Linked DNA regions of Homo sapiens: regions 1, 2, 4, 5, 6 and 7 are each linked to region 3. The links come from fine-mapping of genetic effects on gene expression. A gene starts in region 3. Each other region holds a variant in brackets. All regions are shown on one strand. Distances are between the middles of the regions.

Evidence for each region.
Region 1: its variant is fine-mapped to the expression of STX17 in whole blood (TOPMed, PIP above 0.99).
Region 2: its variant is fine-mapped to the expression of STX17 in monocytes after Pam3CSK4 (Quach 2016, PIP 0.95).
Region 4: its variant is fine-mapped to the expression of STX17 in blood mononuclear cells (TOPMed, PIP 0.90).
Region 5: its variant is fine-mapped to the expression of STX17 in whole blood (TOPMed, PIP 0.99).
Region 6: its variant is fine-mapped to the expression of STX17 in whole blood (TOPMed, PIP 0.96).
Region 7: its variant is fine-mapped to the expression of STX17 in whole blood (INTERVAL, PIP above 0.99).

Annotation. Positions count from the first base shown.
Region 1 is chr9:100,283,260-100,287,328 of GRCh38, forward strand. INVS (inversin) reads left to right here. Exons shown (of 17, transcript NM_014425.5): 13 at 1,061-1,344. LOC124902235 (a long non-coding RNA gene) reads right to left here and starts at 1,062. Exons shown (of 2, transcript XR_007061700.1): 1 at 1-1,062. RefSeq lists enhancers at 677-1,177, 1,178-1,678. The variant C/A (reference allele first, on the strand shown) is at 2,208.
Region 2 is chr9:99,980,622-99,984,678 of GRCh38, forward strand. ERP44 (endoplasmic reticulum protein 44) reads right to left here. Exons shown (of 12, transcript NM_015051.3): 12 at 1-2,092. The coding sequence ends at 1,991. Among named protein-coding and RNA genes, the nearest start is that of STX17, 76 kb to the left of the region's middle. The variant G/GTTT (reference allele first, on the strand shown) is at 1,795.
Region 3 is chr9:99,904,304-99,908,372 of GRCh38, forward strand. It overlaps STX17 (syntaxin 17), which reads left to right and starts at 2,351. Exons shown (of 8, transcript NM_017919.3): 1 at 2,351-2,403. STX17-DT (STX17 divergent transcript) reads right to left here and starts at 2,298. Exons shown (of 3, transcript NR_038853.1): 1 at 2,251-2,298. RefSeq lists a silencer at 2,090-2,489 and an enhancer at 2,650-2,889.
Region 4 is chr9:99,643,058-99,647,126 of GRCh38, forward strand. The region is part of intron 3 of LOC101928438 (a long non-coding RNA gene); the gene reads right to left. Among named protein-coding and RNA genes, the nearest start is that of NR4A3, 180 kb to the right of the region's middle. The variant T/C (reference allele first, on the strand shown) is at 1,710.
Region 5 is chr9:99,985,935-99,990,003 of GRCh38, forward strand. All of the region lies in intron 10 of ERP44 (endoplasmic reticulum protein 44), which reads right to left. Among named protein-coding and RNA genes, the nearest start is that of STX17, 81 kb to the left of the region's middle. The variant C/T (reference allele first, on the strand shown) is at 1,922.
Region 6 is chr9:100,239,456-100,243,524 of GRCh38, forward strand. It overlaps INVS (inversin), which reads left to right. Exons shown (of 17, transcript NM_014425.5): 6 at 605-785; 7 at 3,115-3,224. Among named protein-coding and RNA genes, the nearest start is that of TEX10, 110 kb to the right of the region's middle. The variant T/G (reference allele first, on the strand shown) is at 1,696.
Region 7 is chr9:100,001,750-100,005,818 of GRCh38, forward strand. The region is part of intron 10 of ERP44 (endoplasmic reticulum protein 44); the gene reads right to left. Among named protein-coding and RNA genes, the nearest start is that of ERP44, 95 kb to the right of the region's middle. The variant C/G (reference allele first, on the strand shown) is at 1,751.

The DNA of each region.
Region 1 (4,069 bases), 380 kb after region 3:
TACCACTGCACAGTGCACTCTAGCCTAGGTAAAAGACCGTGTCTTTAAAAAGATAAATAAATACAAAATATAACATTTCTTCTATCATATATTAGGTCTTTGTTTTCCTGGCTGTCCCCTTCTGGGTAGAAGATTCCTCAGGAGAGGACCTGAAATCTGTGGTTGTCATTTCTGTATCTTCAGTGCCCAGCAGAGAGAGACTCAGAAATTAAGTGTTTTTCCTCCTGTCTTTCCCTTGGGAATCCCTACAAGTTAACAGCAATGGTCAAACAAATCCTGCCCCTAACTCGGCCCCTTTGTCTTGAGTTAGGGGCCTGGGCTACCTTTCTGAGCCACCTCAGACCCACCTGCCTCGCCCAGCTACTCATCTTTAGACGGGCCCCTGCTCCCCAGCCCTTCTCTGTTCTCCTGCTACCCAAGGGTTCCAGCTTTGCCACCAGCTACTTATGTGTGACTTTTTGAAAATCACCCTACCTTCTGGGTCTCATCTGTAAAATGAGTGGATCTGACTCATTAGCTAGAGCTGTCAACGGCAGCATCTGCAACTCACAGGTGTGTTTTAATCACTGGCAAGGTACTTTGCAAGTGACTTTTTATATGATCATTAAGGTTTGATGGGCTTTTTTAAATGAATAGAGCAGATTCAAGGTTATCCCTTTGACTGTCATTCTCGGTAGCATTCTGGTGTGCTTTCTGAAACAGGAGAAAAATGGGTGGAGTTACAGGTAGCTCCAGGGATCACACATAAGCTTGGGGCACATACACCGTTGGGAGTGTGTTATGTTTCACACAGAAAAGTTGCCTGGTTATCTGTCATGTGTCTCAACAGCACAAAGACTGATCTATAAACTTTTCTGCTCCATCATCTTTTGGGCTATAAGGCCTGGTGTAAAAGAGATGGTTTTTATTTTATCTGGAGAAAAGACTGCTCTTGGAAAATGCAAATTTCCAAATATCTCCTGTGATGTAGTAGCTCCTCTTAAAATTTAAACTCACACAGAGACTTGAGGAGGTGATACTCTTTAAATTTTTTCATCTTCTTCTTTGGCTTTGCTTCCAGAAAGCGAGAGGAAGAAAACAAACGAAAAGAGGCAGAACAGCAAAAAGGAAGGCGGAGCCCAGATTCCTGCAGACCCCAGGCCCTTCCCTGTCTGCCTAGCACCCAGGATGTGCCCAGCAGGCAGAGCCGGGCCCCCAGCAAGCAGCCTCCTGCTGGCAACGTGGCCCAAGGCCCTGAGCCAAGAGACAGCAGAGGATCTCCAGGAGGGTCTCTAGGCGGAGCCCTCCAGAAGGAGCAGCATGTTTCCTCAGATTTGCAGGGAACAAACTCCAGAAGGCCAAATGGTAGGTGTATTGCCTTTGTCATCTTCTGCCGGCCCATGGACTGTGGGCTTTTTTGATTGGTGTATTTAGACCAATTACACTTAAGATAATTGTTATATTAGCACCTAGGACCGCCACTTTATGATTTGTGTTCTACTTGTTTCCTCTGGTTCTCAGTTCTTTTTCTTTTTTTTCCCTTCCTGTAGGTTACTTCAGCATTTTTAAAAATTCTATCTTGATTGATTTATGGTTTTTTGTTTTCTTTTCTTTTTTAGAGTGAAGTGTGAAAACCTCACTTCCATTCACTTTGTCCACTTTTACGTTTCATTGCTTAGGTATCGGATGGTGTTATAAATTTTGTTTCAATCATGAAATACAATTTATAAAACTCACAAAGGAAATAACATTTTATGCGCCCGCCTGTATTTCTGCTCTTCTGTTGTTTCTTCTTCCTTCCTGATGCTCTAAGATTCTTGTATCATTTCCTTTCTGTATGAAGAGCTTTCTATGGCCAATCTTTAAGGGTATGTCTGCTAGCAACAAATTCTTTCAGTTTTCCTTTGTCTGAGAATGTTTTTATTTGATTCCTGAAGAATCATTAAGCCAGATATAGAATTCAGGGTTGGCAGTTCTTTTCTTTTAGCACTTGAAAAATATTGTGCCATTTCCTTTTGGCTTCCATGGTTTCAGATGAGAAATCCACTGTCATTCAAATTGGTGTTTCTCAGTAACAGTCCTAGGTAATATGTCATTTCTCTCTGGCTGCTTTCAAGATCTTAAAATTTATCATTAGCTTTCAGAAGTTTAATATGATGTGTCTTGGCATGGCTTTTTGCAGTTTATCCTATTTAGAGTTTACTTGTGTGTCAGGGATCCCCATGATC[C/A]CCATCCCCAAGACTACCACCAGGTTTGGTGAGGTTGGAGGATTTACTAGTTTGACTGAGCATATAGTTGTACTCCCAGTTAGGATTTATTATAACAAAGGGACACAAAGCAAAATGAGCAAAGAGAAAAGGTGTATGGAGCAATGTCCAGAGGAAATTAGGCACGAGCTTCCAACGGCTCTCTCCCAGTGGAGTCACACACAACACGTTTAATTCCTTCTGCAATAAATTGTAACAACCAGTCAGACAATCTTTTGTTGACAAAGAAAGCTCACATGAACCTAGGACTCCAGGATTTTTATCTGGAGTCAGTCACATAGATACCCTCTGCCTAGCATATGCCAAAATTCCAGACTCCCAGAAGGAAAGGTGTGCAGCACGAACCCTATTGTTTGCACGAAGCAATTTAAACACACTGAGCTACTCTTATAAGTTAGAGAACGGTAGGAGCTTTCCCAAAATCTAAGTGCAAATGCCAACACAGTGAAAAAGGCAAATAATGTCTTCGTATTATTATGAAAATAGCCCTGACCTTATGGACTTTCTCAGAAAGGGGCTCTGGAACTTCATGATTACTGAATTCAGGGCTTGGACAGTTCAATCTGTTTCTTTGAACCTTAACTTCCTTAGCTATAAAGTGAGGGTATACTTTCTACACCACAAGGTAGCTATGGATAGAAATAATTCATGTAGTGTACTTGTTATAGCCCATAACTCATCATAGGTTTTCAGTAACTATTATTATTGAGCCACTCATTAATCTAGCCAAGAACAACTACAGAAAAGTATACATAAAATGACTACAGGCCGGGTGCAGTGACTCACACCTATAATCCCAACACTTTGGGAGGCTGGGGCAGGTGGATTACTTGAGGCCAGGAGTTCAAGACCAGCCTGGCCAACTTGGCGAAACTCCATCTCTACTAAAAATATACAAATTAGCCAGGCATCGTGGTGCATGCAACTCAGGAGGCTGAATCACAAGAATTGCTTGAACTTGAGAGGCGGAAGTTGCAGTGAACCGAGATTGCGTCACTGCACTCCAGCCTGGGTGACAGTGAGACTCTGTCTCAAAAAATATATATATCTAAAATGAATATAAACATTTCTGGAATATAATTCCATAATCCACTTTACAGTGTAATCCTTAAGGATTATATACTCATGATGCTTTGGTACATATTCATTCATTTATTCATCCAACCAGCTTTAATTAAGCTCCCATAATGTGACAGCCATGTTGAACTTCCTTGAGTTCTTTCTTAGCTTGGGGCCTTTGCAGATGCCACTCCCTCTACCTTATTTTTTAGATATCAGGGATAATGTTTCTTCTTCTGTTCAACCAATATCTCCCCGCTAAAGGAGGCTATAGTTTCCTGCTATTGCTTCCATACTTCTCCTATACTTCCCTCTTATAAAGATCATCACTTTTTACTGTTATTACTGGTTTACTTGTCATTTTTTCCACCAAACTGCAAGATCTGTAAGAGTAGGGTTGCTTCCATTATCTACTGCTGTATAACAAACCACACAAAAACAAAGTGACTTTGAACAATGACAATTTAATTTTTATGATTCTATTTTGGTTGGGAAGTTTGTTTACGGGCTTCATCTGGTCTCACTCATGTGTCTGCATTCAGGTGGAGAGTCAGTGGAATTCCATGTCTAAGATATAGTCACTTAAATGTCTAGCAATTGATGCTGGCTATCAGATGGGATTCCTTGACTCTGGTTTACGTGGTTTTCATCCTCCAGTAGACTAGACTGGCTTCCTTACATTGTGGTCTCAGGACAGCATTTTCAGAAAGCGAAGATAAAAGCCACAAGACCTCTTGAGAAATAGACTCTAGAATTTGCACACA
Region 2 (4,057 bases), 76 kb after region 3:
TTCATTAAATAAACGCCTGATGGTGACTACTAAGTGTCCAGAAATTCTAGGCACTAGTGATACAGACATTAAATTTAGTTTCCTTGTCCTCAGTGACTTCACAGTCCAGAGAAGACAATGATAGTGGCAGGGCTAGAGCCTAAGCCCAATATGCATGAATGCTAAGTAATACTTCCTCAAATCAACTCCCTTTTTAACAGCCACTTTATCATCTTAGAGCATACTGAACACGTACTCCTTGAGGCCTTTTTCATAATAACTACTCTCAAGCCAGCTCTCTGCAACCTAACCCTTGAATTGTATCTTTTGTTGATTATTTTTTCAAACCCAGTTACAGGATTACTATATTATTCCAGTTGATTGCATGTGCTGCTCTTGGTCCTGTGTGCTACCTTGTTGAATGTGAATTTCCATGCTGACCCTCACAGATCTGGTCCATAATCTAACCTGAAGACCATAACTCTAACTTCATTTAACTTATTGGTTAAAAGCAATGAGGATAACAGAACTAAGGCCCAACCTCTAGAAAGCTCCATCCTACTTTCTTATTCACAATTTGATACAATACATTAAATATACCCCTTATCACCTTATTAACATTTATTATTTTGAATAAAACTATGGAAACTTTGGATAAATCATGCATAACGAGGAATTATAAGCTGGTTTTTAAAAATAACAATCATTAAATATCCATTATAAATATTAATTTTATTTTAAAAGAATTGGAAGATGTTACATATATTACATACTACATATAATGGCACATGTCAGCCTTTTAAGCTTAAAAATAATCTTTTCCCAAACTGGGATTGATTTATACCCAAGTATAAAATGACCCTTGGCCTATAGCACCAACCCAGGCCCAGAGGAAAAGCCAGTTTTGAACCTGTCTGTCCTCTGGCACTGGGCTTCCTGATATGACACTGAGGGTCCTCTCCCTCTGGTTTTATTCCCTGGCAGTATTGAGGCCTGGCACAGGGACCCATCTTACTGTATGCTGCAGGCCTGGGGAAATCAGGGAATCTAGAGGGGGTAGGGTCCTCTAACCATTTTATAATGAAAAAAAGTTAAATATGTTCCTTATTCTGTGTTTTTGATTTATACAACTATAACAAGACTCTACAAGACAGAAGGAGCTTAAAATTACTGAAATACAATTTCTCTGCTAGTTCTTCTCTTTGGAAATTGAAGTCTCATAATAGGAGGAGCCTTAAAAGTCATCTAGTTCTGATTGGTAGCCTGTTCCACTGTCACCTCCCTGTCCCAGATTTAGGTATAATTCATTCAAAGTTTTAAATGCCATCCATATGCCACATTTTTAGACAAACACAGAAGCTTAATAATACTTTTCATTTTCTTTTTCTTGTTTCATAAGGACAATTCCTGCCAAATGTTCTGTCTTATGACTCTCCTCCACTTCAAAGTATGTTTAAGTTACACATTAAGAATCCAAAAAAATACCACTATGGAATTTTCATAAGCAATATCCAACCAATCAGTAAAACACAGTACACAGTGTGAAAACTTTAATTTATTCCCCTCCCAAGTATCCAGAATGTATATCTCTTTAGCTTTGAGAAATGAGATACTGAAAATACCAACAGAATTGATCATATGAAAGAAAGAAAAGCACATACGACACAGGAAACATCCCTAAGTCCTCCCTACCCTAGTAGTGCAAGTTAATGGTAAGTTTCTGGCAATGTCACCTTTCATTTGATTTATAAAACTTTTACAGGACAGATTTAAAGTGGAGATAGGCCTCTGATTTTTATTTTTAAATCCTAGCAG[G/GTTT]TTTTTTTTTTTTAAGAGGCTACTATATTAAATGACAATGCATTTTGAGTCGGGGAGAAAAAAATTAAAAACCCAAAATTTCTTTCTGTTTATTCAAAATAAAAATACACATAGAATTATGAAAATATAGGTTTACTATTTCCACCACGTAGGTTGATGCTGCTGTTGAAAGGCTTACAAACTGTTTTTCAAGTTTTTAAAGCTCATCTCGATCCCTCAATAGAGTATACCTATATTCACTGGGTGCTAGTTTCTGGAAGGAGCTCTCAGGTGGACTGCTTGCTACATCTTGGGCTTGCTACAAAAGAAAGAATAAAACATTTTTATACCAATATAGTTTATGGTGCTATAATATTTTAATAAGTGTATTCGATGAATAGTAGTTCCCCTATAATTATTTGCTTATTAATCAATAAAAGCAACTGTGTGCCAAAGCAAGATATTTAAATGTGAAATCTTGCTTTCCTCATTTCAAATGCTCTTATTGAGATTCTCCAGGGCAGGGTTGCCACAGGGCCATTAACTGTGGGCTTGTTTTACATTTGCTGAGGTGTGGTGGAAGGGACCAAAATACCTGACACCTGGGTGCTTTCCTAGACTAGTCGACAGAGACAGCACAACCCTAGGTTGGCCCAAACCCTTCCCTTCTGCACGTGACTGCTAAGAGAATTAATGGCATCCACTCTGTAGATATTATCTTAGTTATCAATTACCAGGATACCAGAAATTATTACAACTTAGTTGAAATAAAGAGGAAAGCAAACACTTCAATGCTGAAAGAAATTAATTTCTGTAGTATTTTACTTGTGTACCAAGAGCAGACAAAAATACACAGTGAAACGAGCTATTTCCAAGAATTTTAAAGAAAAGGCATAATCCCAGCACTTTGGGAGGCCGAGGCGGGTGGATCATGAGGTCAGGAGATCGAGACCATCCTGGCTAACAAGGTGAAACCCCGTCTCTACTAAAAATACAAAAAATTAGCCGGGCGCGGTGGCGGGCGCCTGTAGTCCCAGCTACTCGGGAGGCTGAGGCAGGAGAATGGCGTGAACCCGGGAAGCGGAGCTTGCAGTGAGCCGAGATTGCGCCACTGCAGTCCGCAGTCCGACCTGGGCGACAGAGCGAGACTCCGTCTCAAAAAAAAAAAAAAAAAAAAAAAAGAAAAGGCAGTGCAGTCTATCCTCTATTTCCAAATTGTGACCTCAAGAGCAGGCCTGATTGTTCTCCTCATTTTAATATCCCCTGTAGTTGACATAGGCACACAGTGCATATATTACATACTATATGTAATGGCACATTAATTCTAACAGGAAGCAATGTGTCTACAAACTTATCATTTGACTTTATCATGTTCCTCTTTCCCAATACATTTTTAATTTTTTCAGTGAGATATATGTTTGGATTAAGCTGAAATAAGCTGAAATTAATTATATTACTATAAAACAAACATTTATTTGGTGCCCTCTGTTAGTACACAAAGATGAACAAATGTAAGTTCACTGTCTAATGAGGAAATTGAAACAAATCAGGATAATACAATAACGGTAAATGACATCTTTTCCTAATCTGATAAAATACTATGCAGGCCTTCTTTTCTGAGGAAAATAATCACCTTTGGGTTATAGCCAACAAGTTTGCCTCCTATAGTTGTTAATTATCAAAAATCTGACCTAATTTTTAAAGGAAAAAGCATGTTGTTGGATTCCTATAGGGAATTCTTGCCTCTGAACCTAATCTCACTCTTAAATAAGGTAAAGAAAAACTCAGTTTTTATTTTCCTTTTATAAATAGAGGTTTTATAGGCAAAATAATGGATTTAAGTTCTGAGCATATGAAATAGAGGGTTTTGGTACATATCTTCCCTCTCGGTATCATGGTAATAGGCATGATAGAAATCATAATCTATCAAAATGCAAACTTAGGGCTGTTTAGTACAGTAGGAACATAGAAATTACTTGTAACAGAAGTTACAAGGTGGAAACAGTAAAATTCTCAGGTAAAAAAAAACATAAAAGAACATAAAATTTTGATAAAATAGTTGTCAAGTATTCTAAATCACAAATGGGAAAGCTGCATTAAACTGTAAGGTTTTGAGCATTATGAATAGTGTATTTGTGAAGGCTCTTAGAATGATTTAGCAAGAATAACAAATCATTACTTTCTTTATAGTGTGGTCAATCTTCCAGCCACAGAGGAAGGCTTGGATAGTTATTGGAATCCACTGATTTCTTCACTGATTTATCTGCTTTAGATTCCTATTTCC
Region 3 (4,069 bases):
CCTCATCTAGCTATTATTCTCAATTCTTCAAATAGGTCTTGTAATTCCTTATAAACACAAACTTGATTTTTGTCATTTTTGAATGTAATCTTCCTCCCAGTACATTTCAATTTTTTTTTTTTTTTTTTTTTTTGAGACAGGGTGTCAGTCTTTTCTGCAGGCTGGAGTGCAGGCTGGTGGGATCATAGTTCATTCCAGCCTCAAACTCCTGGGCTCAACTGATCCTCCTGTTTCAGCCTCCTGAGTAGCTGGGATTATAGGTACATGCCACCATACCCAGCTACGTTTTTTTTGTTTTTTTTAGAAATGGGGTCTCACTATTTTGCCCAGGTTGGTCTTGAATTTCTAGCCTCAAGCAATCCTCCCTCATTGGCCTCCCAAAGTGCTGAGATTATAGGCATGAGCCATCACGCCCAGTCTTCTTCTCATTACATTTTAAAATTGATGATTGTTGTTTAGGAGAGGTATTTTATAGCCATCTTATTGAATTAGTTTCAGTTTATTCCATGGATTTTCCAAGAAAGCAATCAATCATAACACCCTAAGAATTTTTTTTAATTTTCTTTCCAACATATACACTTAATGTTTTGTTTGGACTTGCTGGGTTCAGTTAGGACTTCAGGAAAATGTCGGCCAGTAGTAGCAGGCCTGCCCCTAACAACTTGATGACCTAGAGTACACAAAAGAGGTCCACACACCATATGTTTGAATATTTAAAGATTATAAATCAAGCTAACCAACAGTTAGATTAAAAGGTTTTGGTCGGGCATGGTGGCTCACACCTGTAATCCCAGTACTTTGGGAGGCCGAGGCGGGCGGATCACGAGGTCAGGAGATCAAGACCATCCTGGCTAACATGGTGAAACTCTGTCTCTATTAAAAATACAAAAAATTAGCCGGGCATGTTGGCACACGCCTGTAGTCCCAGCTACTCAGGAGGCTGACACAGGATAATCGCTTGAATCTGGGAGGTGGAGGTTGCAGTGAGCTGAGATCATGCCACTGCACTCCAGCCTGGGCGAAAGAGCAAGACTCTGTCTAAAAAAAAAAAAAAAAAAAAAATGTTTATCCTACTACTTTGACACACCTAACTTACAGCAAACATACATATAACAACTTAGAAGTCCAGGTCCAAATTTAGAATCTTTGAGTACCACACCTCCTGATTTTGTACCTGAGGAAGCTTTTTCAGAACTTAACACAAATGATCTTTTATTTCAAAAGATCTTATTTCACTGATCCTTGCATAAAAAACATTTTCTCACAGTATTGCCTAATACTTTAATTTTTCTCCTTAGAATCAAAATTTGATAAATACATTCTGGAGCTCATTGTAAAACAAATATCAGTATACATTATGTCCCCAAAGAAAATCCAAATTGCTTGGTAGATTTGGTGCTTTGTTTTAGAAATTGTCTTTCAAGGCTTTTTAAAGGATCTACAGGCCCCTAATCTTCCCTGTTTACCTCCTACTCTACTGGAAGACCCTAAGAACTCAGTTTCCTTAACTGTGGTTTGAACATCCTGATCACTTCTGAGACAATGCCATTAGTGAATACATTCTAAGCACGTCATCTGAATATTCACAGACATCTTTTTAAAAGGGCTGGATCTGGAAGTTAGGCCATGAAGAGAGGAGGACCTGTGACTTGGACAAGGCTTCAAAGCCGGCCACCTGCTTGTTCATGTGGTTGCAGCTGGTCTAACTGGAATAACTTGGGAAGGAAATTAGGACACCCAGTTGGAGTTCCAGCTCTGCCATAAGCTGGCTGAACTGGAGTGAGTCACTTAAAACTCTTTGTTAAACCCCAGAGTCATAATCTATAAAATCGGGATAAAGACGTTTGCCTTAAGCCCTCCACCAGTTTTTGGAGGAAACCACAATTTGCTGAGCTTTAATTTTTACACCTGTTGCAATTAAGATGGCACTCCTGCCCTGTCCACTTCACAGGGCTTTTGGGGACGGGATGGGGAGGCACCACCTTTCTGAGCTTCAGTTTCAAAACAGAGCTAAGAATACATGCCCAACCCGCAAATAAAATTCTAGGAAGAACAGAGGAAAACGGACAGGAAAACTGCGAAATGCAGTCGGCCATACAAGCATGAATTGTCTTAAACACAACAAGCAGACCTAAAGAGCGTTTGTGCGTCTCTCTCCTCTTGGCTCGAGTCACAACCCCATAACGTAAATCAATATCACTTTTGAAAAAGGCTTTCGCTGTTCTCAGCAGCGTCCGCATTTGTACTCACCTGTGCGCCCCCAGCGCCCGGCCTGGGGGCCCTGCGGGGCGGGGGCGGGGGCGGGGGCGGGGCCCAACCCTGCCCACCCCTCGTGATGCCCCGCCCCGTCGCTCCTGCGCCTGCGCCGTGCCCACCGACCGGCCTCGAGCGCCCCGGCGGGAGGTAAGGGGCTCTCTGGAGGCCGCCTTTGGGGGCGTCGGGCCCTCACAGGCTTGGTGGGCCTGGCGCCCGTGTGGCGCGCGCAAGAGGCGCTGGGCGGCAAGTAGGGCATTGGATCCGAAGTGCGAGCGCCATGGTGGCTCCTCCTGTTTTTCAGAAGTGGCGGAGCCTCGCTTGGTTTCGTTTTTGGAAGCTTTATTGGAAGCTGGTATAGGGAGGCCGCAGACGATGCGAGCAGGACGGCCTCCCGGGGTCGCGGGGTGGAAAAGTTTCCGGCGCGCGTCCTGTCTCTGGCGCGCTGTAGGCCCCGGGTCGCCAGGGTCGCTGGCGTCTGGGTCCCGGGACAGACCCGCGCATCCGTTCGCTGGTGGGGGCGTTTGGTGTGTGTGGCCCAGGTGTGCTGTGGGTGACACTGCGAGGAATGACGCGACGCTCGATGGTAGTGAGGCTCGGAGGACTGGGAGCGAGAGGCCGGAAGCCCCTGCTCGCCAAACCCAGAGGTGGTTGGCAGAAGGTCCCACACCTTGGCTCCCTCCTTTTAGCTAACCGAGGTTCAGAGAGGAGACTTTACTTTGACTTTTCTCTCCAAATTCGGTATCTCTTCCATAAGTCAGAAACATTAAGCGGCGGGCCGGAAGAAATCGGGCGCCACTAGTATCCTGAAAAGTGGGAGCTCTGGGCCGATGGAAGGTGTTCGTCACTTTTGGGGGCTGGGTTTCCTGAGAAATGGGGTCTTTCACTTATTAATAACCTCCTAAGTAACTTACTGGGAAACATGAGTATTATGGTACCCATCTCATATTAGTTGTAAGCACTACATGATAAAGTTTGTAAAGCACCTGGCACAGTCCTGGCACCCCTCTCTCCAAGTATTAATGCAGTGAATACGATGGCAGTTCTTTGACTTCTAAATGTTTTTACCTGTCTTACGTGAAACATCCTCTTATACTAAAAAACTTTTTTATTTTGAAATAATTTTAAAATTACAGAAAAGTTTCAAAAGTAATACAGAGTTCCCTATTGCCTCCATTAATAATTTTTTACATACCATAGCGCAATTATCAAAAGCAAGAAGTTAATATTAGTATAATACTATTAACTGAATTACTAACTTGTGATTTTTTTTCCTGTATTAATGTCCTTTTTCTATTCTAGGATCCACTCTAAGACCCGACATTGCAGTTAGTTGTCTTGGGTCCTTGGTCTCCTCCAGTCTGTGACAGTTCCTCTGTCTTTTCCTGTCTTTACACTGATAGTCTTTTTCTGTCTTTATACTCTTTCTGATCTTTACACTTTTGAAGAATGCTGGTCAGTTATTTTGTAGAGTGCCCCTCAAATGGGGTTTGTCCAGTGTTCTCTCATGATTAGATTAAGGTTATACATTTTTGTTAAGAACACAAAAGTGTGTGTGCCCTTCTCAGTTCATCATATGAGCATAGCTGATATATATGACTTATTGCTCGTGAGGTTAATCTTGATCACTTGGTAGAGAGTGTCTGCTGGGATTCTCCAATGTAAAGGTCTTATTTTTCTCCTTATAATTGACATCTTGGGGGGGAGCTTTTAAACCGTACGCATATCCTGTTTCTCCTCAGACTTTCCCTTGCTAAATTTCACATCCATTGGTGGATCTTGCCTTCAGCAATTATTATGACTATGGTGTTCTAAT
Region 4 (4,069 bases), 260 kb before region 3:
TTAGCAAGGATAAAATTCTGCAGCTATTATAGAAAACACTGTGGAGTTTCCTCAAAACATTAAAAATGTAATAGAACTGCCATTTGATCCAATAATGCTACTTTCGAATATTTATCAAAAAATTGAAATCATGATGTTGAGAAGATATTTATATTCTCATGTTCATCGCAGTATTATTCACAATAGTCAAGAAGGGAAAACAAACTAAATGCCTATTGACAGATGAATGAATAAAGAAAATGTAGTATATGCACACAATGGAATATTGTTCAGCCTTAAAAAGGAAGAAAATCCTGCCATAAGCAACATCATGGATGAACCTTAAGGATATTATGTTAAGTGAAATAAGCCAGTCATAGAAGGACAAATACTGCATGATGACACTTATTAATACATGCAGTATCTAAATTAGTTAAACTCATAGAAGTAGAAAGTAGAATAGTGATTTCCAGGAGCTGAGGGAGGGGGCAAATGGGAAGTTCCTGTTAAATGGGAATAAGTTTTCAGTTACACAAGATGAATAATTTCTATAGGCATGTACAAATGTATTAATATCTAGAGATCTGTTGTACAACATTGTGCCCATAGCTAATAATATTGTTTTATACACTTAAAATTTAAGAGGGTAGGTCTCATTTTAAGTATTCTTGCCACAATAATATACATATAATTTATTATATACTATTTGTATATGATATTACGTATACTTATGGAGTGTGTGTGGACATAGATACAGACACAGATATAGTCCCATAAGGACAAGAACTTTGGTCACCATTATTCATATCCCCAGCATGTAGAAGAGTGCCTGGTACATGGGAGACAATTTGGAAACATTTTTACATAAGTTTATTCGCTTCTATGAGAAAAAAGACAACCTCAACAAAAATAAGAAAATGAAAAAATAAAATTAAATAAGGATATCAGAAAATTGAACAGGAATATAATTAAAAAATAAAACCAAGATCTGAGTTGCTAAAAACTGATAAACACCAAAAATTTAATCAAGTAAAATACAAAGAAATAAAGGTGAGAAAAAATACATAATCAAAATAGAAACTAAAGTGAGTGACTACACAGTTGTATGAGAATGAATTTCATGTAATGAATAATTTCTATTTATAAAATATGATAAAAACTGAAAAACAAATTAGAGAGAAAATCAAAGAAAGCAGAGGGATTATATACATTTATAGATAAGTTATCTAAAATGATCAGGGAATAATGTCAATATTATATAAACCACTTCGAACATTTTAAAAAATGGTAAAACAATAAGTAAAATATTACCTAGGATCTAAATAACCTGATAACCATACTATTTTGAAAGCTACCGGCCAATTTTATTTATTAATATACATGCCAAAATGTTAAACAAAATGCAAGCAATTCAGATATTTACAAAAAAAACACACACCATGAACAAATGGAATTTGTCACAGGAATTTAAGGAATATTCAACATCAGAAAAATTATCAAAACAATTTATCACATTAATAGTACAAATAATAAAAACCACATTTCAATAGGCACCTAAAGGTTTTCCAAGAAAACACCAGAACTTATTTAAGAGTTTTCAGCAGAAAATATAAAAATAGAAAGATATTTAATTCAACTTCAAAAAAAAGTTATTAAATCCTTACAATGTGGAAGAATACTCAACACAAATGAGTTGTCTACTTAAAATCCTGAACTAACATTCTAAGTAA[T/C]TGAGAAAACACTAGAGGTGTCCCATTAAGAACAGAAACAAAATTTAAATGCCCGTTTTCACTGTTTACTAATTAATACTGCATTTCAGACTTACAAATGCAATGACACTTGAATAATTTTAGATATCAGGGAGGAAAAATAAAATGTCAATTTCAGGCAATATTATTGTATACCTAGAAAAAAATTTTAAATCACCTATAAAATTATCAAAGCTATTAAAAGAGTTCAACAAAGTAATCAGTGATAAGATACTTATATAAATCCATAGTATTTCTCTGTTCCATTTCTATATCATTAAATGTACCAGAAATTAAAATAAAAACAATTTATACCAACAACAAAAATGTAAAATAGAGATGTTTTAAAAGAATGTAAAATTTATGTTAAACTGTGAATAAAAATTCTGGAAAGGAAAGAATAAATATTATAAAGATGAAAATCCTTCATAGGTTAATCTATAAATTAAAGCAATTCAAAAGTGAATCTTAACTATTCCTTATATAACTTGAAAAAATTATTTTTAAATTCATTTGCAGTGGAACTTCTTTTTTAAATTGAATCAAATTAGCAATCCCTGATGCAGTTACTTCCAAAAGCCCAATAAAATTACCAAGAAAGAGAAGCCCAGAATTAAAAACAACTCACAAGACAGACATGTAGACAAGCTGGTTGCCAGAATCCAAAAGGAATTTTCACTATCTACAAGTCCTCTGGAGCTGAATTGAGAGATACAACTGGTGGCTTCCTTCTGCTTAACAACAATAATAAAATTTTTTAGAAGTCCAAACAACAGTTAAAATAAAATATAAGGACACTAGTCTCTCATTCACAATATTATCCCTGGCTCAGAAAACTAAGGTCAGGACCAACCAGATTGTTGAGTAGCCATCATTTTGTTACTATGATATTCCTTTTTTATGACTTTTCTTTCAACCTTCTCTTCTATCTACGGTCATTCAGAGAAGGCACTTCTAGGAAAATATTGTTACAAAGGGGAAGGGTGTTTTACTATAATAAAAAAGCATAATTAGGCCAAGCGCGGTGGCTCACACCTGTAATCCCAGCACTTTGGGAAGCTGAGGCAGGCAGAACATTTGAGGTCAGGAGTTCAAGACCAACCTGGCCAACATGGTGAGGCCCCCGTCTCTACTAAAAATACAAACATTGGCTGGGCGCGGTGGCTCACGCCTGTAATCCCAGCACTTTGGGAGACTGAGGTGGATGGATCACGAGGTCAGGAGATCGAGACCATCCTGGCTAACATGGTGAAGTCCCATCTCTACTAAAAATACAAAAATTAGCTGGGCGTGGTGGCATGAGCCTGTTGTCCCAGCTACTAGGGAGGCTGAGGCAGGAGAATCGCTTGAACCCGGGAGGCAGAGGTTGCAGTGAGCCAAGATCGTGCCACTGCACTCCAGCTGGGCGACAGAGCAAGACTCTGTCTCAAATTAAAAAAAAAAAAATTGCGTAAGTGGCTGGAATGGAAATTCTCCTTCAGAAAAGGATTATAGGCAGGTGGGAAAAAAAAAAAGAAAAAGCCTTGGTAAAGCAAATTCATTTGGAGGAATACAGTCTGTCATTTACTCCATTGGTTCAGAGTACCAGAAAACCAGAAAGAGAAAACAGAAGATAGCACCTCTGGTGAGCAGAATCATAATATATGAATGCTGGAAAAACACTAGAATTGGGCTCAGAATTGAATACTACTAATTGTAGATCTAAGAAGGGATTTGGTATAGAAGACAGAAGAGGGAGAAGCCATGCATTTCAATTTTGTAAGTTCTCTTATAGATAATTCTCTTATTTGAAAATGAGTAAATACAACACACACACAAACATACACAACACAAGCCCTATAAAAAAGAATGCAGAAGAAGTGAGGAAGTTTATTATTCTAAAAATTAAAAGAAGAAGCAATTTTCTGTAGATAATCTTCGCAAGAGACAGAAGCCATTGTTAGAAAATTTTGTGTGATATTTTTGTTCGGGTGCAAAAATTAGATTTCCACACAAGATGATCAGAGAGCCATAAAAACAGGGAAAAAAGGAGACATGACAAAATAGTGGGGAATAAACTTAGATCTTATCAAAACAATTATGAAATTGACATATCCCCGTCCCTCAAATGTTGCCTGGCCCAGTTGGTTTTATGGGTGCATTTTGCCAAAATTTCAAGGAATAGATAATTTCTAACTTACACAGGTTGTTTCAAAAATACAGAAAATGAGATAAAGCTGTCTAAATCATTTTCTAAAACTAATATAATCTAATTTTCACAACTGGATAAGATCAGAACAAAAAATTAAACTGTTGGCCCCACTACCTCTGAAAATATAGATGCAAAATTCTAAATGGAATAT
Region 5 (4,069 bases), 82 kb after region 3:
GCTTCAGGATATTCTGAGGATAATGATATATAAACTGACACAACTTCACTTTCTATGGACACTATTCTCTTAATTACCAATCATGTATGAGCAAATCTGCAGCACAGAAACAATGCACTGTAGCAGACACCACCATACTGAGCTAAACAAATTTATGTACCAGGCTTTCTTCTTTGTAATATTTCCTTGAGTTATATACAATAAAGTAGGATTACTGGGTTAACAAATAAGAGCTTTTGACCAAGTGTGAGCAAATTATACCTATAAAACATCAGTTGGTTTTTACTATCTGTCTACCTGTTTGTTCTTTAAAGTCTTGCCAAGCATGTCTTTTTTAAATTAAAATTGGTTTTGCTAATTTGATAAGTAAAAGATACCTGCATTTTAATTTACATTTCTTCACAAATTAAGCATTTTTTTCATTGCTTGTCTGAATTTATATCTCTGCTCATACGAATTGTCTGCCTTCTGAGATCTTGGTGCTTTAAAAAATTAATTATATATTTTAAATAGAAACACTTTTTCATTCTGTTACAAGAATTAAAATGCAGGTCCATATACACTTTAATTCCTTGGGTAGAATTGATTGACTTTTAAAATCATTATTTTTTTGGTAGCAAACAATAGCTGGCTTGTAGTTAATATTACCAGTTTCTTTTACTTTTTATCCTCTCTTGAGGTCCCGGAAGTGCTGTTTCTTCCCTTCAATAACTCCCACTGAGATGTACCAACCAATAACTTCATTGTATACCCATTTTGGCTCCCCACTAGCTCCAATGCAACAGAGACCAGCAGGTGCCAAATGCACAGTTTACAAATACAAATGACTGTCAGGTAGCTGTATTGACAGAATGCCTCTGAAAGGTTCTCTGGTGCTGAAGTAATTGCACATGCACCAGAGATAAACATTGAGAGGAGATCAATTTAAATTTAATCTGACATCATCTACTGTCACCCACAGCAAGTGCTAAAATATATCCATTCAATCCATAGCATTGCAAATGGGGTCTATAATGTTTAAGATAAAGCCTCTGCTAGTTTGTTTTATGAGGGCCAAAGATTATCACAACTAATACAGTATGAACTGCTTCTGCTAGTCAAGAAATAATTTATGATTAAATCTTAAATGTGAGAAATTCATGAAAACACTCAAAACACATTTTTCCAAGCTGATTTTTTTCCACTGTCAACAGATGAAAGAATGTGTGCAAAAGGAAAAGACGAGAGATAGGATGAATCTGAACTGATGCAGTAGAAAAATAGATTATAAAAGAGCTCTTATCTAGCTTGTGGCCAGAAACTATCCATCATTATTAAGAAGTAACATTCAGTGAATCAACACTAAATTGTCAAGAAAATAGACTACGTGGTAATCTCCTAAACAGGAAAATAAATGGGCCCTTGCCATAATAAATAAAATTATATATATCACGCTTTAGGGCAAAATTGTTCTAATTAGAACACCTAAGTGTTTCCCATCCTCCAGTTACTTTTTTGTTTATTTACAATTCTTTATTTTTAGGTGACACAAAATTTTGACATAGTGAAATGCACAAATGTTAAGTGTATGAACAAACTTTGACAAATGAATACAAGGTAATACGTATTTTTATTTCTTAAAATTTACATACAGCAGAATTCACTTTTTTAGGCTTAAGTTTTATGAGTTTTAACATGTGCATAGCATTTTGCTACCAGCTTCTCAAATCAGGTACAGAACAATTCCAACACCCTTTTTAAGTCAGACTCTTCCATTTCCCATAACCCCTGGCAACTGTTGACCTTCTATGTTGTCATTTCTAGAAAATCATACAACATGTAATTATAAGAATGGCTTTTTTTTTTCACTTGGCATTATTGCATTTGGGATTCAGCCATTTTTGTATGTATAAAAAGATCTGTTCCTGTATCCATTGCTGAA[C/T]AGTATTTCCCATTGAGTAGATACACAATTAGTTTATCCATTCAAGGACATTCAAGTTCTTTCCAGATTTTGGTGATTATGAACAATACTGCTACAAACATTTGTGCACAAGTTTTTGTGAACTTTGTCTAGAATAAATGCCAGGTTATATGGTAGGTATATGTCTTACTTTTGAAGAAACTGCCAAACTGTTTTCTAGAGTGACTGTATCATGTTGTAATCCACCAGCAATGTATGAAACTTCCAGTTGTTCCACATCCTCATGAATACCTTGTATTATCAGTATTTTAATTTAGGCATTCTAAAAAATATATACTAATGATGTTGAGCACCCTTCACATGTGTTTATCTGCCATCCCTATATCTTCTTTACATTCTATCAGTATCTTTCACAGAACAAAAGTTTTTAATTTGATGAAGACCAATTTATAAATGATTTCCTTTTATGGATAGTGCTTTTGATACTCTAAGAACTCTCTGTGAAACCCCAGGTCATAAAGAGTTTCTCCTATGTTCGCTTCTAAGAGTTTTCTAGTTTTATCTTACATATAGGTACATGATAAATTCTAAGTTAATTTTTCATAGAAGGAAATTCTTTTTTGGTATGAGGACATTCAGTTAGTCTAGCACCATCTCTTGAAAAGACTATTCTTTCTCCACTGAATTGCCTTAGCACCTTTAAAAAAATCTATTACTGGGATTACCCTTCCAAGATGGCCGAATAGGAAGAGCTCCAATCTGCAGCTCCCAGTGTGATCAACGCAGAAGACGGGTGATTTCTGCATTTCAAACTGAGGTACCTGGTTCATCTCACTGGGACTGGTTGGACAGTGGATGCAGCCCATGGAGGGCGAGCCGAAGCAGGGTGGGGCATTGCCTCACCCAGGAAGCACAAGGGATTGGGGGATTTACCTTTCCTAGCCAAGGGAAGCCATGACAGACTGTACCGGAAAAAACAGGACATTCCCACCCAAATACTGCGCTTTTCCAATGATCTTAGCAAACGGCACACCAGGAGATTATATCCCACACCTGGCTCAGTGGCTCCCACGCCCACAGAGCCTTGCTCACTGCTAGCTAGCGCAGCAGTCCGAGATGGAACTGCGAGGTGGCAGCCTGGCTGGAGGAGGGGTGCCTGCCATTGCTGAGGCTTGACTAGGTAAACAAAGCGGCCAGGAATCTCGAACTGGGTGGAGCCCACCGCAGCTCAACAAGGCCTGCTGGCCTCTGTAGACACCACCTCTGGGGGCAGGGCATAGCTGAATAAAAGGCAGCAGAAACTTCTGCAGACTTAAACGTCCTTGTCTGACAGCTCTGAAGAGAGCAGTGGTTCTCCCAGCATGTTTGAGCTCTGTGAACAGGCAGACTGCCTCCTCAAGTGGGTCCCTGACCCCCGTGTAGCCTAACTGGGAGACACCTCCCAGTAGGAGCCGACTGACACCTCATACAGCTGGGTGCCCCTCTGAGACGAAGCTTCCAGAGAAAGGATTAGGCAGCAATAATTGCCCTCCTGCAATATTTGCTGTTGTGATACCCAGGCAAACAGGGTCTGGAGTGGACCTCCAGCAAACTCCAACAGACTTGCAGGTGAGGGACCTGACTGTTAGTAGGAAAACTAACAAACAGAAAGGAATAGCACCAACATCAACAAAAAGGACATTCACACAAAAACCCCATCTGTAGGTCACCATCATCAAAGGCCAAAAGTAGATAAAACCACAAAGATGGGGAGAAACCAGAGCAGAAAAGCTGAAAATTCTGAAAACCAAAGCACCTCTTCTCCTCCAAAGGATCACAGCTCCTCGCCAGCAATGGAACAAAGCAGGAAAGTTGACAGAAGTAGGCTTCAGAAGGTCGGTAATAACAAACTTCTCCAAGTTAAAGGAGGATGTTCGAACCCATCACAAGGAAGCCGAAAACCTTGAAAAAAGATGAAAGGCTAACTAGAATAAACAGTGTAGAGAAGACTTTAAATGACCGGATGGAGCTGAAAACCATGGCACGAGAACTATGTGACACATGCACAAGCTACAGTAGCCGATTCGATCCAGTGGAAGAAAGGGTATCAGTGATTGAAGATCAAATGAATGAAATAAAGTGTGAAGGTTAGAGAAAAAAGAGTAAAAAGAGACAAACAAAGCCTCCAAG
Region 6 (4,069 bases), 340 kb after region 3:
ACATCTTTAGTTGAATGATAACAGAAACAAAAGCATATCAGGCAAAATGTTGACACCTTTTTAATCTAGATAATCAGTATGTAATGGTTATATTATTTTCTGTACTTTTTATAATTAAATATGAAAATAATTTTTTAAAGATTTAGACTTTGTACCTTTTCCATGATTTATCACTTGTGCTGAGAGATAATGTAGAGGTCTTATTTCGAAAATTCCTCAGTTAATTCCTGTGCCAGGCTGGGCACAGTGACTCACACCATAATCCCAGCATTTTGGGAGGCTGAGGTAGGAGAATTGCTTGAGCCTAGGAATTCAAGACCAGCCTGAGAAACATGGCAATACCCCATCTCTACAAAAAACACAAAAATTAGCCAGGTGTGGTGGGATGTGCCTGTAGTCCCAGCTACTTGGGAAGCTGAGGCAGGATTGCTTGAGCCCAGGAGTTTGAGGCTGCAGTGAGCTGTGATCATGCCACTGTACTCCAACCTGGGTGACAGAACAAGACCCTGTCTCTAAAAAAGAAAGAAAGAAAAAAATACTTACACCAAATGTAATTTATTGAGGATTCCATGTATGTCTGAAGTCTCTGGTTCCTTCAAATCAGGATGCTGCTCCAACAGAGTCTTTACTGAACTGGCAAGACTACGAGGGTCGAACTCCTCTTCACTTTGCAGTTGCTGATGGGAATGTGACCGTGGTTGATGTCTTGACCTCATATGAAAGCTGCAATATAACGTCTTATGATAACTTATTTCGAACCCCACTGCACTGGGCAGCTTTATTAGGTACGTGACTCAAAGGATCAACAGTAAAAGGAACTTCATGAGTATAGGAATATTTCTGTGCCTTCCCTTCCACTGTTTACTCCCAACTCCTAGTTAATTATTTTGATTTCTAACTGATATGTTGCATTGTTTTATAAACTAAATTATAGTAATATAAATTTATTTTATGTTAAATATTAGTTTTAATTTCAACATCATATCTTCACTTTAAATTTTTGTTATAAAAGTAATTCACATTTAGTGACAACATGTGAATGTAACATAAACCTCTTTTCACATTCAGCGCCTATATTTTTGGGGAGGAGGGCTTTAATTTTATGTTTATGCTAATACTATGATATTTGAGTTTTTTTCTTTATATTTTCCTGAAATGCCTTTTACTTAACCTTTTTGAAGATCACTTTTATAGATGAGAGAGTGTATATATGTGTATGTTTTATGTGTATGTTGGGGTTTTTTGTGTGTGGAGTCAATCTGAGAGTCTTTCTCTTTCAATGAAGGAGTTTTACCCATTAATAGTCATTGTTATAAGATAAATAATCAGGTCTTTTTTTTTCCTGCTATCTTTCTATTCTTAGTGTTTTCAGCTTAACGTTTTGTTTTGTTTTGTTTCCTGTTTCCTTTGCTTTCTGCTCTTTGGTATATGGATTAGATTTGATGTTGTTATTTGATTTTGAATTGCCTAATGTTTTAGGAGGGTTTAGGAGTGGCTACTTTTAAATTTATCAAAAACTTTTTAAAGCCTGAATCAGAGTCAAGAGCAAAAATGCATCTATTGATTCCCACCTATTTAAGACAAAAAATTTAGCACAGATACTCATCACTCTTTTAGTACTTGTTAATGTAATCTGAGATTTCCCCCTAATTATTATAATCTTGATCTTAGTTTTTAAATTACACATTATCTTTT[T/G]TTTAAATGATGTTTATATGTGCACTCACTTTTATCGCCAGATTTAGAATTATTATTCAGATTTCATCTTACATCCCTTTTTATTTTTCTTCTGGATTCTGGGCTTACTTGGCAAATTTGTCTCCATGTAACTAAATTGACTTTTTGTTCTATAAGTTTTGCTTTCTTTCTGCCTCCTATATAGATTGTATTTTGGGTTCTATTTTTATTTCCTTGTCTTACCTATATTTCTTTTTATCTCATTTCATTTCCTTTTAACTTCCTTCCATTACTTTTTCATTTCACTCTGTTTTCTTCTTAGAATACCCTGTTTCTGTTTCATAGAAGCCATCTCTTTTTGCACTAAGTCGAGGATACCAGTTGCCTGAAATTTTCCTCTGGATCCTTCTCTAGATCATTTTCAGAGGTATGCTGCTTATCTTCCTGACAGTGTTTCTTTTTCACTTTCCTATAGTATGTTTTTTTGTAGTCCTTACTGAATTTTTCCCTTTATTTCTCAAACAAAATGATATGTGTTTAGAGTAACTATGTGGCAAAGATTGTCTTTAATCCCACATTTGTGTTATGGAGAACTCCATCTTAGACCACCTCTGGAGAGCAGATAGATGAACACAATTTCCACTCAAATTACTTTTCTCTGCTTGGCTTTTATGCAGTATATCCTTGCTCTGCTAATGGGGCATCTTCTTCATTCTCCAATATCTGAAAGCAATAGAGTGTATGAAATTTCAGGTTTCCTACGTATGCTACTACCAGGTTTATTCATTTTTTAATATTTTCTACAGCTCTTCACTTGTGGAGATCACATCCTCCAGAATGCACTACATTGTCTTCATCGCTGCCTTATCATGCCTGCCCACTTGTTTTCTGAGATTTGAAATCACTGCCTAGATGTTATAAAATATAAATATAATAAAAGATTGTGGAAAGGAGAATATAGGGATGGGAAGCCTCAGAGATAGAAGAGGTTGTGTTATAGTTTGTCCACCTGAATAGAAGAGAACAGTTATGCAGTTCTGTTTGGTTGGGCAACGGAACCTTGAGAGTAGGAGCAGTGAAGGCTAAGAGGGCTTGGCTCTAAAGCACCTTCCCCTCCTTTGCTTTAGGCAGCTTTATAAAGTGAAGCCAGGAAATGCAATGAGGTGATACCTAATATAGTTTTTTCTCAGCCTGGCAATTATACTTAATTCATTCCTACCTGATTGAAGCATTAAGTTTTTAGTAAGTTTTCATTCTGTTCTACCTCATATTAATATGTTAGTGAGAAGTTAGAAGAGGCTGCATTGGGGGCTGCTGTTCAGAAACCGTTGTGAATGCTGTATTATGTTAGTGATTTTTCTTATCTTTTTCATTTAAATAGATTATAAATTAATTAACATCCTTTATAAGTGATAATTACCTTTTTGTGTCTTTTCTCAGGCCATGCACAGATTGTCCATCTCCTTTTAGAAAGAAATAAGTCTGGAACTATCCCATCTGACAGCCAAGGAGCCACACCTTTGCACTATGCTGCTCAGAGTAACTTTGCTGTAAGTAAAACAAGACAATGCTCTTTTTTCTTAGTGAAAATTGTTATTTTTATATAATTGTAGATTCATATGTAGTTGTAGGAAATAATACAACAAGATTGCATGTACCCTTCACCTAGTTCACTCTGTTTTTATTTATTTATTTATTTATTTTTCCAATAAGCTTTTTGCACTCCTACACCTAATTCACTCTAATGATAACATCCAATACAATATCATAAACAGGAAATTGACATTGATACAATCCCTGATCTTATTCAGCTTTGCCCAGATTTACTTAGACTCATTTGTCTGTTTTTATGTAGCAATTATCTTTTAACAATGGTTCATGCTGTTCACTCTGTGATGCAAGTGATAGCCTGAGGTTTTTTTAAGTTGTTAGTCACATCTGAAGTTTTATACAGATTTTATTTTAATGTTAAGCATAACATTTTACTTTACTGTAAGAATACTTCATCTTTATATTACTTTTATAGCACTAAGAACATCTTAGTGTTCAGCCACGTGTAATTGTCCTTAAAGCAGTGTGGCAAGGCTTTGGAACTAGAACAATCTCGGCTAGAATCTTGTCTGTGCAGTTTGCTAAACTGTATTACCTTACACAAGTTTCTTAATCTTAGTTTCTTCATATGTAAGATGAGGATAATTATACCTTTTCTTCCAGGATTGTTGTAAAGATTAGAGAAAATTTATGACAAGTGCCTGCTGTATACCTTAGCATAGAGCAGGTACTCAAGAAATAGAATGTGCTCTCATTACTACTAGTGTTGATAATTATGTATATTATACGTCTGAGAATGCAAAAACGAATTATTTCCAAAAATACTGAATAGTATTCATAGTTC
Region 7 (4,069 bases), 97 kb after region 3:
TATTGGCTTTTTATCCATTCAGCCAGTCTCTGTCTTTTGACTGGAGAATTTAAGACATTTACATTCAAATTAATTATTGATGGGTAAAGACTACTGCCATTTTGTTAATTGTTCACTGGTTGTTTTGTAGATCCTTTGTTGCTTTCTTCCTCTCTTCTTGTCTTCCTTTGTGATTAGGTGATTTTCTCTAGTGGTAGGCTTTATTCCTTAATTTTTATCTTTCGTGTATTTACTAAAGTTTTTTGCTTTGTGGTTACCATGAGATTTACGTAAAATATAATTATAATAGGGTTTTTAAAATTTTTATTTTATTTTGTACATTTCTTCACTATGTCCTATGCTCATAACAGGCTATTTTAAGCTGATAAAAACTTTATTCACATAAAAAAAAAAACTACACTTTTACTCTACCCTCCTCACATTTTAAATTTCTGGTGTCATAATTTACATCTTTTTATATTGTGTATCCCTAAAATTATTGTAGCTATTATTATTTTAATAGTTCTGTCTTTTATCCTTCATACCAAAGCTATAAGTGATTTATATACCACCATTACAGAATTAGAGTATTCTGAATTTGACTGTATACTTACTTTCACCAGTGAGTTTTATACTTTCACGTTTTCATGTTAGTACTTACTGTCCTTTTCTTTCAGCCTGAAGAACTCCCTTTTAGCATTCTTTTTAAGACAGGTCTGATGGTAATGAACTCCCTCAGCTTTTGTTCATCTGGGAAAGTCTTTAGCTCTCATTTCTGAAGGACAGCTTTGCCAGGTATTAATATAATATTGCTGGTTGGCAGTTTTCTTCCTTAAAGACTTTGAACATATCATCCCACTCTCTCCTGGTCTATAAGGATTCTGATGAGAAAACTGCTGCTAGCTGTACTGGAACTCCCCTTTATATGTTATTTGCTCTTCTCTTGCTGCTTTCAGAATCTTCTCTTGCTGCTTTCATAATCTTCTCTTGCTGCTTTCATAATCTTCTCTTGCTGCTTTCAGAATCTTCCCTGTGTCCCTGATTTTCAACAGTTTATGTGTTGGCGTAGTCTTTGGACTAAATCTGATTGGAGTTCTTTGACTTTCCTGTACCTAGATACTTATACCTTTCCTCAGATTTGCAAAGCTTTTTTTATTTTAAATAAGCTTTCTACCCCTTTATTTCTCCTTTCTCCTTCATTTACTCCTATAACTTGAATATTTACTCTTTTGGTGCTGTCCCATTAATTCCATAAACTTTCTTCATTCTTTTTTTCTTCTGTATGTTTTCAAATAACCTGTATGTTCAGGTTTAAATTCTTTCTTCTAATTGTTCAATTCTGTTGGTGATGCTATTACATTTTCTTTTCATTCATTGTGTTCTTCAGCTCTAGAATTTGTTTAATTTTTAAGAAATATATAATTTCAATCTCTCTGGTAAACTTCTCATTTTGGTAACTTGCTTTCCTGATTTCATTGAATTGTTTCTCAGTATTTTCTTGAAGTTCATGGATGTTACTTTTTAAAACAATTATTCTGAATTCTTTGTCAGGCAGTTCATACATCTCCATTTCTTTGGGTCAGCTTCTGGGAGATTATTGTGCTCTTTTGGTGATGTTACGTTTATGTCTCCTTGGTTTTTCATTTCTTGTTGCCTTACATTGATGTCTGGGCATTTGAAGATGTAGAGACTTATTCTAGTCTTTGACTGGCTTTGTCTGGGAAAGCCCTTCACTAGTCAGTCAATTCAGGGATTCTAGTCCAGCTGCCTG[C/G]TATGGTCCATAGGTTGGCTTGCTCTTAAGAGTCTTCACACTGGCTGGCCTGGTGCCTGGGTCAGCAGGTGGGTGAGCTTGGTGCCTGGGTCCATGGAGTTAAGCCTGAAACTTGGGTCCACAGGAGTGGACCTGTTGTCTGGTTCTGTGGAATGGGCCTGCATCTAAGAGGGTGGGTCTGAAGCCTGGGTCCACTAGAGCTGACCTGGCACTGGGGTAGGCCTTGAGCCTGAGTCTGCAGGGGCCAGCCAGGCACTGGGATGAGCCTGGTGCCTGGGTCCACTGGGATAGGCTGAGTCTGTGGGAGTGGGCCTGGGTCAAGAGTCCACAGGGGCTGGCCTGGAGCCTGGGTCTGCAGAGATAGTCCTGGAGCTTCCGTCCATGGAGACTGGCCTAGAACCAGGGCCTACTAGGGTGAACTTGGACTCTCTGTCTACTGGAGCAAACCTAGATCTTGGGTCCTTGGAACCTGCAGCTGACCTAGTGCTGGGGCAGGTGTGGAATCACGATCTATGGCAGCTTGTCTGGAGTGTAGGATCATGGTTGCTGGCCTGGTATCTGAAGCCACTGAGGCTGGCTGAAAGCCTAGAGCTTAGGAGTCTGGCTAGAGCCTGGGTCCACTTGTGTTGGCCTGGAGGCTGAGTGTGCAGGTGCTGGCCTGGGGGTCAGGTCTGCAAAGTCTAGCCTGGGTCCTGGGGCTTTAGGGGCCAGTCTGAAACCTGGATCCACAAGTGTAGTCCTAGAACTTGGGTCCATGGAGGCTGGTCCATCACTGGAGTCTACTAGGATAAGCCTGAACCCTGGGTCTGTGAGTGCTAGCCTCATGATCAGGGCTGTGGGCAGCTGGTCTGGAGCCTGAAGCCACTGGGTTTGGCCTGGTGCTGGAATAGGTCCAGAGACTGAGTCTGCTGGGCAGGCCTCGGGCCTGCAGCTTTGGAATCCAGCCTGGGGCTTGGAGATATTGCCTGGCACCAGGATGGGACTAAATGCTCAGTTCATGGGTACCAGCCTGGAGTCTGGGGCCACAGAAGCCTTTCTGGCACTGGGTTTTACCAGGACAAGCCAAGTGTTTGGGTCTGAGGAAAAGTTCAGTGCTAACTTCCTTCTCCTTTCCCCACATGAAGGGTATCTCTCTCCATACTGTGCTGCCTGGGGTTGGGGGAGGGGTGGTGCAAGTAGCATAAAACTGTCCTTTTTAGCCTCTTCAATGCATCATTTCTTTACTACTCTCAGGTACTACTATCTCTGACCTGGTTTCCTTAGCTCTTGTGAAGGTATTTTTCTGCATGGATGTATGTTCAACTTGATGTTTCTGTGTGGAGACGAACATGGAAAGTCCTTTTCTGTCATCTTGCTGATGTCCATTGAGATTAACTTTCATAATCAACTCTTGACTAGATTACTGAACAGTCTCCTAGATTTTATTTTGACCCCCTCTAATCTATTTTCCAAATTGCAGCCAGAGTAATCTTTAAAAAACAATCTGATTATGTCATTCCCTGATTAAAACCTTTCATTGGCTCTTCATGGTTTTCAGGATAAAGTCAAAATTCCTTAACACAGCATGTAAGGACTTTCATGTGTTAGTTCTCTTGACCTCATCCCTCAGCATTCACCTTTCCATTTATATTCACCAACAGCCCTTGAACTTGTTCTTGCCAAGGTCACCTTTCTCTAAGCCCCATCTCCTTCTCACCTCGGGATAAACTTCTACAAAACTTTATACCTACCTTCGGCATCAATATCGCCAGAAATCCTGGATCAGGTACTACTCTGTTGATCTCTGTCAGAGCACTTATCCCTTAGTAAAACACAATTGCCTGTTAACCTGGTTGTCCCTTTCCTCTACTTGGTTATGAATTCTTTGAGGGCAGGGACCCAGTCTCAGTAAAAACCCTTGGTTCTTAGCACAATGTCTGTCATACAGAAGAGATAGCTAAATATTTAATGAATTGATAGCTTGAATGGTATCTTTCTGAGCATAGATAAAGTAAGAACAACTAAGATTTCTCACTACTTTATGGTTTATAACATAATCATTATTTCTCATTAGTTTTTATAACAATCCCATTAGGTAGGTGGTATCATTAACCATTTTTTATATACGAAGAAACAAGAACAGAGGAGGTAAGTGACTTTCCCAAGGCTGGACTCAAATCTAGGCTTCCTAGGTAATTTTAGGATTGGGAATCTTCTACCAAACAACCACATCTCCACTGAAATATTTAGAACTCAGTGGGGTAATTCATTCTGCCATAGGACTACAAATCATCCTCTGTGTAATTTAATCTTTTGAGATAAAAATGGCATTTAAATGAA